Homo sapiens: one gene and its partner. The protein of the gene in region 2 purifies or fractionates together with the protein of the main gene of each other region. This does not show direct contact. Each region holds a gene or a part of one and is shown on either strand. Other genes may lie near its edges.

Evidence for each region.
Region 1: the proteins of ZNF383 (region 2) and ZNF644 purify together in Homo sapiens (affinity purification with mass spectrometry; one large-scale study listed by BioGRID and IntAct). This does not show direct contact.

Annotation. Positions count from the first base shown.
Region 1 is NC_000001.11:90,938,461-90,942,292, forward strand, and holds part of ZNF644 (zinc finger protein 644), read right to left. Parts: intron 2,850-3,832; coding exon 1-2,849.
Region 2 is NC_000019.10:37,245,431-37,249,262, reverse strand, and holds the end of ZNF383 (zinc finger protein 383), read right to left. Parts: 3' UTR 523-3,832; downstream 1-522.

The DNA of each region.
Region 1 (3,832 bases), on a different chromosome or scaffold from region 2:
ACGATTTCTTCTCAAGAGACAAATCAGTCCAATGAAAAACAGAACTATGCTTTGACAATGAAGCATCTGCAGTTTCTAAATGCTGAGGATCATGTATCTCATGCAAAAAGTTGTTACTTCCAGTATCTTCATAGTATTCAAAATAAAAGCCATCGTTTTGGTCATAACTAAGAGTAGCATTTTCTCCAGGCTCCTGACCTTCCACTTTGCTCTTAAATAAAGGGAATAAATTTACATGCTCTTGATTAATATCACTATAGGTTTCATCTTCTATGGCCTGTGTAGTGTAGTCTCCTAACTCAACATTATCCCAGGAACTTTCATCTTCTGTTTCATAACTATCTTTCTTTTCAGCAGAATTAAGTTTTTGCAAAACGACAACAGTCATTTTATGCAAAAAATCTGGATAGCTATCCAAGTCTTCCCCTCCAACAGAACTTTCCTTCTTAGATTCCTTAATTACTCTCTTTACAGCTACACGTCTGTGATCTTTGAAGCTTTCAGGCCTTTTGGCGTCAGGCTTATGAGGGTCTGAAATAAAATTGTTGTGAGAATTACTTGATGATGAAAACAGGTGTAAAGAATTTAATGAACTAGCTTCTTCTTTTTTGAAATGCACAGGATATGATTCACCTGATTTTTTGATCATCCTATAGTTTTCATATTTGTGTCTATACAAATAGTGGCTATTTGCCTTGGCATTAGACTTTTCTTTTGCTGCTTGATGGAAATACTTAGGTTTTTGGTCAACGCTGCTTTTAATTGTAACATTCTTATGAGGAGAGCTGTTTTGATTGCACATGTTTACACCTGATTGGGCAATGCTTTTCCGAGCTTTCTGTATTCTGTGTGGCCGCTTATGAATTTTTGAAAAACTACTTGATTGTGAGGTTGATCCAAATGTTCGCTTCACATCTTGTTTTAAAGCAGAGTTCTTTGGAAATGTGGTTGACTGTTGTTTAGTTAATGTTTTAGTGCTATCACTATCTACAGGTTCTTCAAGGATGTCATTTTTTCTTTTATCAAGTCCAAGAGGACTACCAAATGAATCAACACATGATGATGAATGCAAGTACTCCGTGTGCTTTTTTAAAACACTTTTGGCTGAAGTAGTAAAAGGACACATCTTACATATGTAGGTAGCTGATTTTTTGGATGATCCTACTACAGAGTCTTTCATGAAAGTCTTTTTTTGTGTTTTTCTCTGGGCAATATCAGAAGTGACCATAGGGCATTTTACCACTGCCCCATGTGCAATGCCTCGATGGCATTCCAATTCATTTTCTGTCACTGCCATGAAGTTACACTCTTCACAGCAGTAGTACCTTTTATCTTTTTCATGGGTTTTAGCATGTTGCACAAATGTTTTAGGGCAATTGGTACCAAACACACACTGAGGACACTGTAATCGTGCACTTCTTCCTTCATCCTGAAGTTCTTTCAATTCACGAATTTCCTCCATCAACTTCTGTCTTCTCTCCTGGTGAATAATCATATGTTTTAGAAGTGAATTGCGATCTCGAAATGTCCGTCCACATTCTCTACAAGCATATGGCCTTGGGACATTAAGATGGCGAAAGTGACTATTCCCATCTAAATGATACATCATATGCCTGTGGAGGTGCTTCTTCTCCCTAAAATTCACATTGCACTTTGTACAGGGGTAGAATGATGGCTCTTCGGTACTGAAAGTAGCAGGTGACTCAGAATCACTCTCTTCACATTTCTTTTTTAAGGTATTTGAAAGAAAAGTGCTAGTATGAACAGGTGAACTCTCTTCTCCACACTTATCTGGGTTATAAATTAGATGTTGGAAGGCATCCACAGATTCTAAGTCTTCATCAGTTGATTCAGGCTTCACTTTTGATAATGCATATTTCTGTGAGTCTACTGCTTGTAGCTCTTCATTTTGTTCTAGAAAGTCTACTTCTTGCATTTTTGATTTATTGGGTACACAATTAGAATCACTAAAGCAATCCTCGGTATAACGAGTTATCTTGCTTACATCCATTTTTCGCTTTCTTTTTTTTTCTAGACCTATTTTAGAATGAGGTGGAGCTTTATCTACTGTTTCCTCATTAGTCATAAGAAATTGAATGAACTCTTTTTGGGGATCCCAGTTTGTATCATTTTCTGACCTAAATCCATCTGTACCTGAGGAAATTCCCGTTACTGTATTGACACAATCATCTTTCACCAATAAATCTTCACCATCCTCACCCACCTCTACTTGATTTATTAAAGTGCCATCTGACTTTATATTACTCCCTACTGAATTCTGAATGTCACAACCAACTGAAGCAGAGGTAGGTAGTTTTTTATTGGAATGGGTGGGATTCTTAGCATGTGCTACATCTGATAACAAAAATAAAACTTGGTGTTGACTTGCTTTCTGTGGTGTAGACAGCTGAAGATCAGCTGCTACCTTCAAAGTTGAACAAGATTCTGTTGTTGGCTGATCCACAGGCTGTCCAGTGGTTAATGAAACACTGCCTTTATTCATATTGGAAGTCTTAGTTAAGGAGGAGTGTGAAACTGGTCCATTAACAGCAGCTCCTTTAGGCAAGATAAAGTTTTCACTAGAAACAGTAGGAGCACCAGCATGTATAAATAGACTAGACTGGCCTCCACTTAAGGCGTTTTCAGATTTGTCCTTTGACAGTTCTTCAGGCAGAGTCAACGTATTATTTTTCTGAAATGATGTTTGACAATCTTTTGGCTTATGAACTCCGCTCTCTTTGTCTGAGATAAAATTGTTGTCATCTAGGAGTTCTTCTTTAGCACCAGTAATATCGGTGTTTATCTTCAAATCATCCATATTGTTGGCAAGCCCATTTAACACATTTAGTCTAGAAAATGGAAAAAAAAAATTTAGATTTGCATGAAAGAAAAAATACTATTAGAATGTATGGAGAGTTGAAAGTACATATTTTTATTAGTTTAATTTTCTACTCTTTATATTGAGATTCTAATAATTTTCCAAGAATGAAAGAACACAAACATATTGAAATATTTAAAAAGCACCTCAAAGGTTAATATTGTTCTTCATGCTAGGCAACAACAACAGTCCAATACGTCATGTATACAAAATGTCTAGGGAAAAGCAACATACACAAACACACTAGGGAAAAGCAGCATACACACAGATACACATGTATACACAGACTCAAAAACAATATAAATATGCTACAGACTGAAAAAATTTTAAACCTCACGTGGAGATTGCTAATACAAAGAAAATTCTTTCACTTAAGTAGGTTTATCAGAGGTAGTCACTCTATTCTAGAGAACAATATAAATTATCAAATATTGCAGAGAAGTAAAAGATTTGTCACTTATAAGTTCATTCCTGAAGGTAACAAAACACCATTCAGTAAATAACTTTATTGAATGAACATATTTGCTATCAACATCAATGTTTTATGTATGAAATAGTCCTTTTTAAAAGACTGCTTTGCTCTCAAGATGCTTAATGTTCTCCCAACATTCTATCAATTGTAAAAATGCTTTATTCATAGTTTTGTTCATTCCTTATTCAAATTAACCTTAACTATAATTTTAACTTTAGTAAAGTTAACTAAATTTTAGTAAAGCGAATTTTAACTTTACTAAAGTTAAAATTAATGAAGGTTTATGTCAAACTTTCATATGTGGGGCCTCAAATTCTAGGCATTCTCTAAAAGCAGTTATCCCACTTATGATCTGGTGGTCTAGTGCAATGGCCTAACACATTTTACAATAGAATAGCATAAACATATGTTTTAAATTTATTTCATATAAAATGTAGATAAAACTTTTCTAGGCATTTTTGATAAGATATTTAATCATTATG
Region 2 (3,832 bases):
CCTGGGTGACACAGCGAGACTCTGTCTCAAACAAAAAGTCAAAAAACAACTGATGCTGGTGAGGCTGCGGAGAAAAGAGAATGCTTATACACTGTTGGTGAGAGCATAAAATAGTCCAGCCAGTGTGAAAAGCAGCCTGGAGATTTCTCAGAGAACTTAAAACAGAGCTACCATTTGACCCAGCAATCCCATTACTGTGTATCTACCCAAAAGAAAAGAAATCATTCTACCAAAAAGACAAATGCACTTGTATGTTGATCGCAGCACTATTCACAATAGCAATGATGGGGAATCAACCCAGGTGCCCATCAATGGTAGACTGGATAAAGAAAACGTGGTACATCAAGCTCATCCAACCCACGCTCCATAGGCTGCATGTGGCCCAGGATGGCTTTGAATGCAGCCCCGCAATCCACCCTCATCCAAAATGCACAGCAATGATTGGATATGTTGGCTATGTTTAAAGACCCTTCAAGTAGGAAGTAAAGGGCATAAATGAATGAACAGTGATACTGCAGCAGATAGGATAATAGTCCAAGTTTATTTATAAAATATATCCCATCCTGTCAAATACTGCTAGAAAAAAGGGTTCATCTAGAAGATGTTGAGGTTAGAGCATATATTTTCATTGACAGAACTTTAGTTATTTGAACTTTTGCAATCCCATGTAAATTATCTTATCTTGTATTCCAAAAATCCCATGCTATCCACATCTATTTGGTTCCTGAGTTCAGACACTAAGAAATACAATCTTATCTAAATCAATTTGATTTTCAAGTTTCAGAAAGTAGAAAGTTTGATTTATCAGAATTGTTTTTTCCTAAATTCAGAATGTGACAAATATTTATTTTCAATGGGTTACTAGATTTGATTTGCTAATTTATAATGCTGTATTTTCATAACTGATTCTGGACAAATTGTTTTGGGTTCTAGTAGGTTGTAACATCAGGATTATGACAAATTTTAAAAATAGATAATTTGCTATCTCAGTCTATGTCCTAGAAGAGTTTCCTAAGACATTTCATAGATTTCACCTATAAAAATCTCTACCTTGGTGTCTTTTTTAGTGTAGCAATTTGACATTTAAAATATATTTTAAGAAAAATTTTATTTCACTTATTTATTTTTGAGAGAGTTTCACTCTTGTTGCCCAGGCTGGAGTGCAATGGCATGATCCCCGCTCACCGCAATCTCTGCCTCCCGGGTTCAAGCCTTTCTCCTGCCTCAGCCTCCTGAGTAGCCGGGATTACAGGCATGAGCCACCACGCCCGGCTAATTTTTTGTATTTTTAGTAGAGACAGGGTTTCTCCATGTTGGTCAGGCTGGTCTCAAATCCCCGACCTCAGGTGATCCACCCGCCTTGGCCTCACAGAATGCTGAGATTACAGGCGTGAGCCACCATGCCTGGCCAGTCTTATTTTTTTAAATAAGTTTATTCTGGAGGGAGGTCTATTAAGATTTTACACCTCCAGTTAATTCTGATGTCGTCAACTTATTAAAAATCACAGACTTTTTCCAGATTTTCAGATATATTATAAAAATGTCTATAATACCAACTTTTAAGTTTGTTGTTTTAATTTTTTTTTTTTTCTGTAGAGATGAGGGGAGGGGGATCTCATTATGTTACCTAGACTGGTCTTGAACTCCTGGCCTCAAGCCATTCTCCTACCTCAGCCTCCCAAAGTGCTGGAATTACAGGCATGAGCCACTGCAACCAGCCTTAAGTTTTTAAATTGAGATCAAATTCACACAGCATAATATTCACCCTTTTAAAGTGTATAGTTGAGTGACCTGTAGTATATAAACAAAATTGTACAACCTTTACCCATGCCACATTTTCATTACCCCAAATGACACAGTTCTTTTAAGTTTACATATATAGCCATTTCAATTTCTCATATACAATATTGTTTATTTGTCATCCTTATTTCACCTCTGGAATCACTAAACTTTGTCTCATTTTTTTTCTCTTCCATCAAATATCAATTTTGGATTCAGATCCAGTTTTTTTCTTTCAATTATTTCTGCCTTTTAAAATAATACTACCTCCTTCCTCCCACAATTCATTTCAGCTTGTTTTAGTTCCTTGGGTTCTATATTTTTTCTTCCTAGTATTACAATATATGCACAAATATTAGGTTATAAAACTTCCAATACAACTTTTACTGCCACTCACAGGTTTTTCAATTGTTTTCATTTTCATGTACATTTAAATAATGTATATATTAGGGATTTATTCCTTAACCCATGTTAATTAAGAGGGAATATTGAATTAATAATCAGATATTTGATGGTTATCCTATTGTACTGCTTCTTCTGGTCAAATAATGTTGCCAGTATGTTTTCTGCATTTTGGGGGGAAATATTAGAAAAAATTTTATAATCTCTTCCTGCTTTTTTGACAGCTGTGCTTTCTACTACTCATCATATTTTCAGGGTTTCAGATTGGTAACCGTTTATTTTTTATTTTGTAAGACAGAGTCTCGCTCTGTCACCCAGTCTGGAGTGTGCAGTGGTGCAATCTCAGCTCACTATAACCTCCAACTCCCAGGTTCAAGCAATCCTCCCACCTCAGCCTCTTGAGTAGCTAGGATTACAGGCATGCAACACCATGCCTGGCTATTTGTTTTTGTTTTTGTTTTTTTTGTATTTTTAGTAGAGACGGGGTTTCACCATGTTGGCCAGGCTGGTCTCGAGCTCCTGACCTCAAGTGATCCACCCACCTTGGCCTCCCAAAGTGCTAGGATTACAGGTGTGAGCCACCGCGCCCAGCCTCAGACTGGTATTCTTTATGTAGCATAAAAGATAAAGTCTGAACAAAGACTATGCACACATACTTTTTCTCTTCCTTTTAAAATTCCACACTGAATAATAATGATAGGGAAAGGCTTCGTTATACTCATTACAAGTGTTTCTCTTTTTCCACCATGAATTACAAATTTGCCAAAGGTAAACAACATGGTTAAAATCCTTTCCATAAATCCTAATGAAGATACTTATGATAATGAGTATATCACTGATAATAGTGGAAAACTTTTACTAAACCTGTATTATGTGATAACAGTTTGAGGTACTTTGCATTTATTAATTCATTGACTCTTCACAGCAATCCAATACATACAGCCTTATTATAGATGCCTAGACATAATTTTTTAAAATACCACTAACAGCCAGGGGCGGTGGCTCACACCTATAATCCCAGCACTTTGGGAAGCCAAGGCAGGAGGATCACGAGGTCAGGAGTTTGAGAGCAGCCTGGCCAATATGGTGAAACCCCATCTCTACTAATAATACAAAAATTAGCTAGGCATGGTGGCGCGCGCCTGTAGTCCCAGCTACTCGGGAGGCTGAGGCGGAAGACTCACTTGAACTCGGGAGGCAGAGGTTGCAGTGAGCCGAGATTGCACCACTGCCCTCCAGCCTGGGCAACAGAGCGAGACTGTGTCTCAAAAAACAAAAACACCACTAATAGCTATAAGAAAAAATAATTGACCGGGCACAGTGGCTCACACCTGTAATCCCCGAACTTTGGGAGGCCGAGGTGGGTGGATCACAAGGTCAAGAGTTCAAGACCAGCCTGGCCAACATAGTGAAACCCTGTCTCTACTAAAAATACAAAAATTAGCCAGGCATGGTGTCGTGCGCCTGTAGTCTCAGATACTAGGAAGGCTGAGGCAGGAGAATCGCTTGAACCCGGGAGGCAGCAGTTGTGGTGAACTGAGATTGTGCCACTGCACTTCAGCCTGGGCAACAGAGTGAACTCCATCTCAAAAAAAAAAAAAAACAAACAAACAAAAAATTAATATCTGGATTGATAAATAACACTTTCATA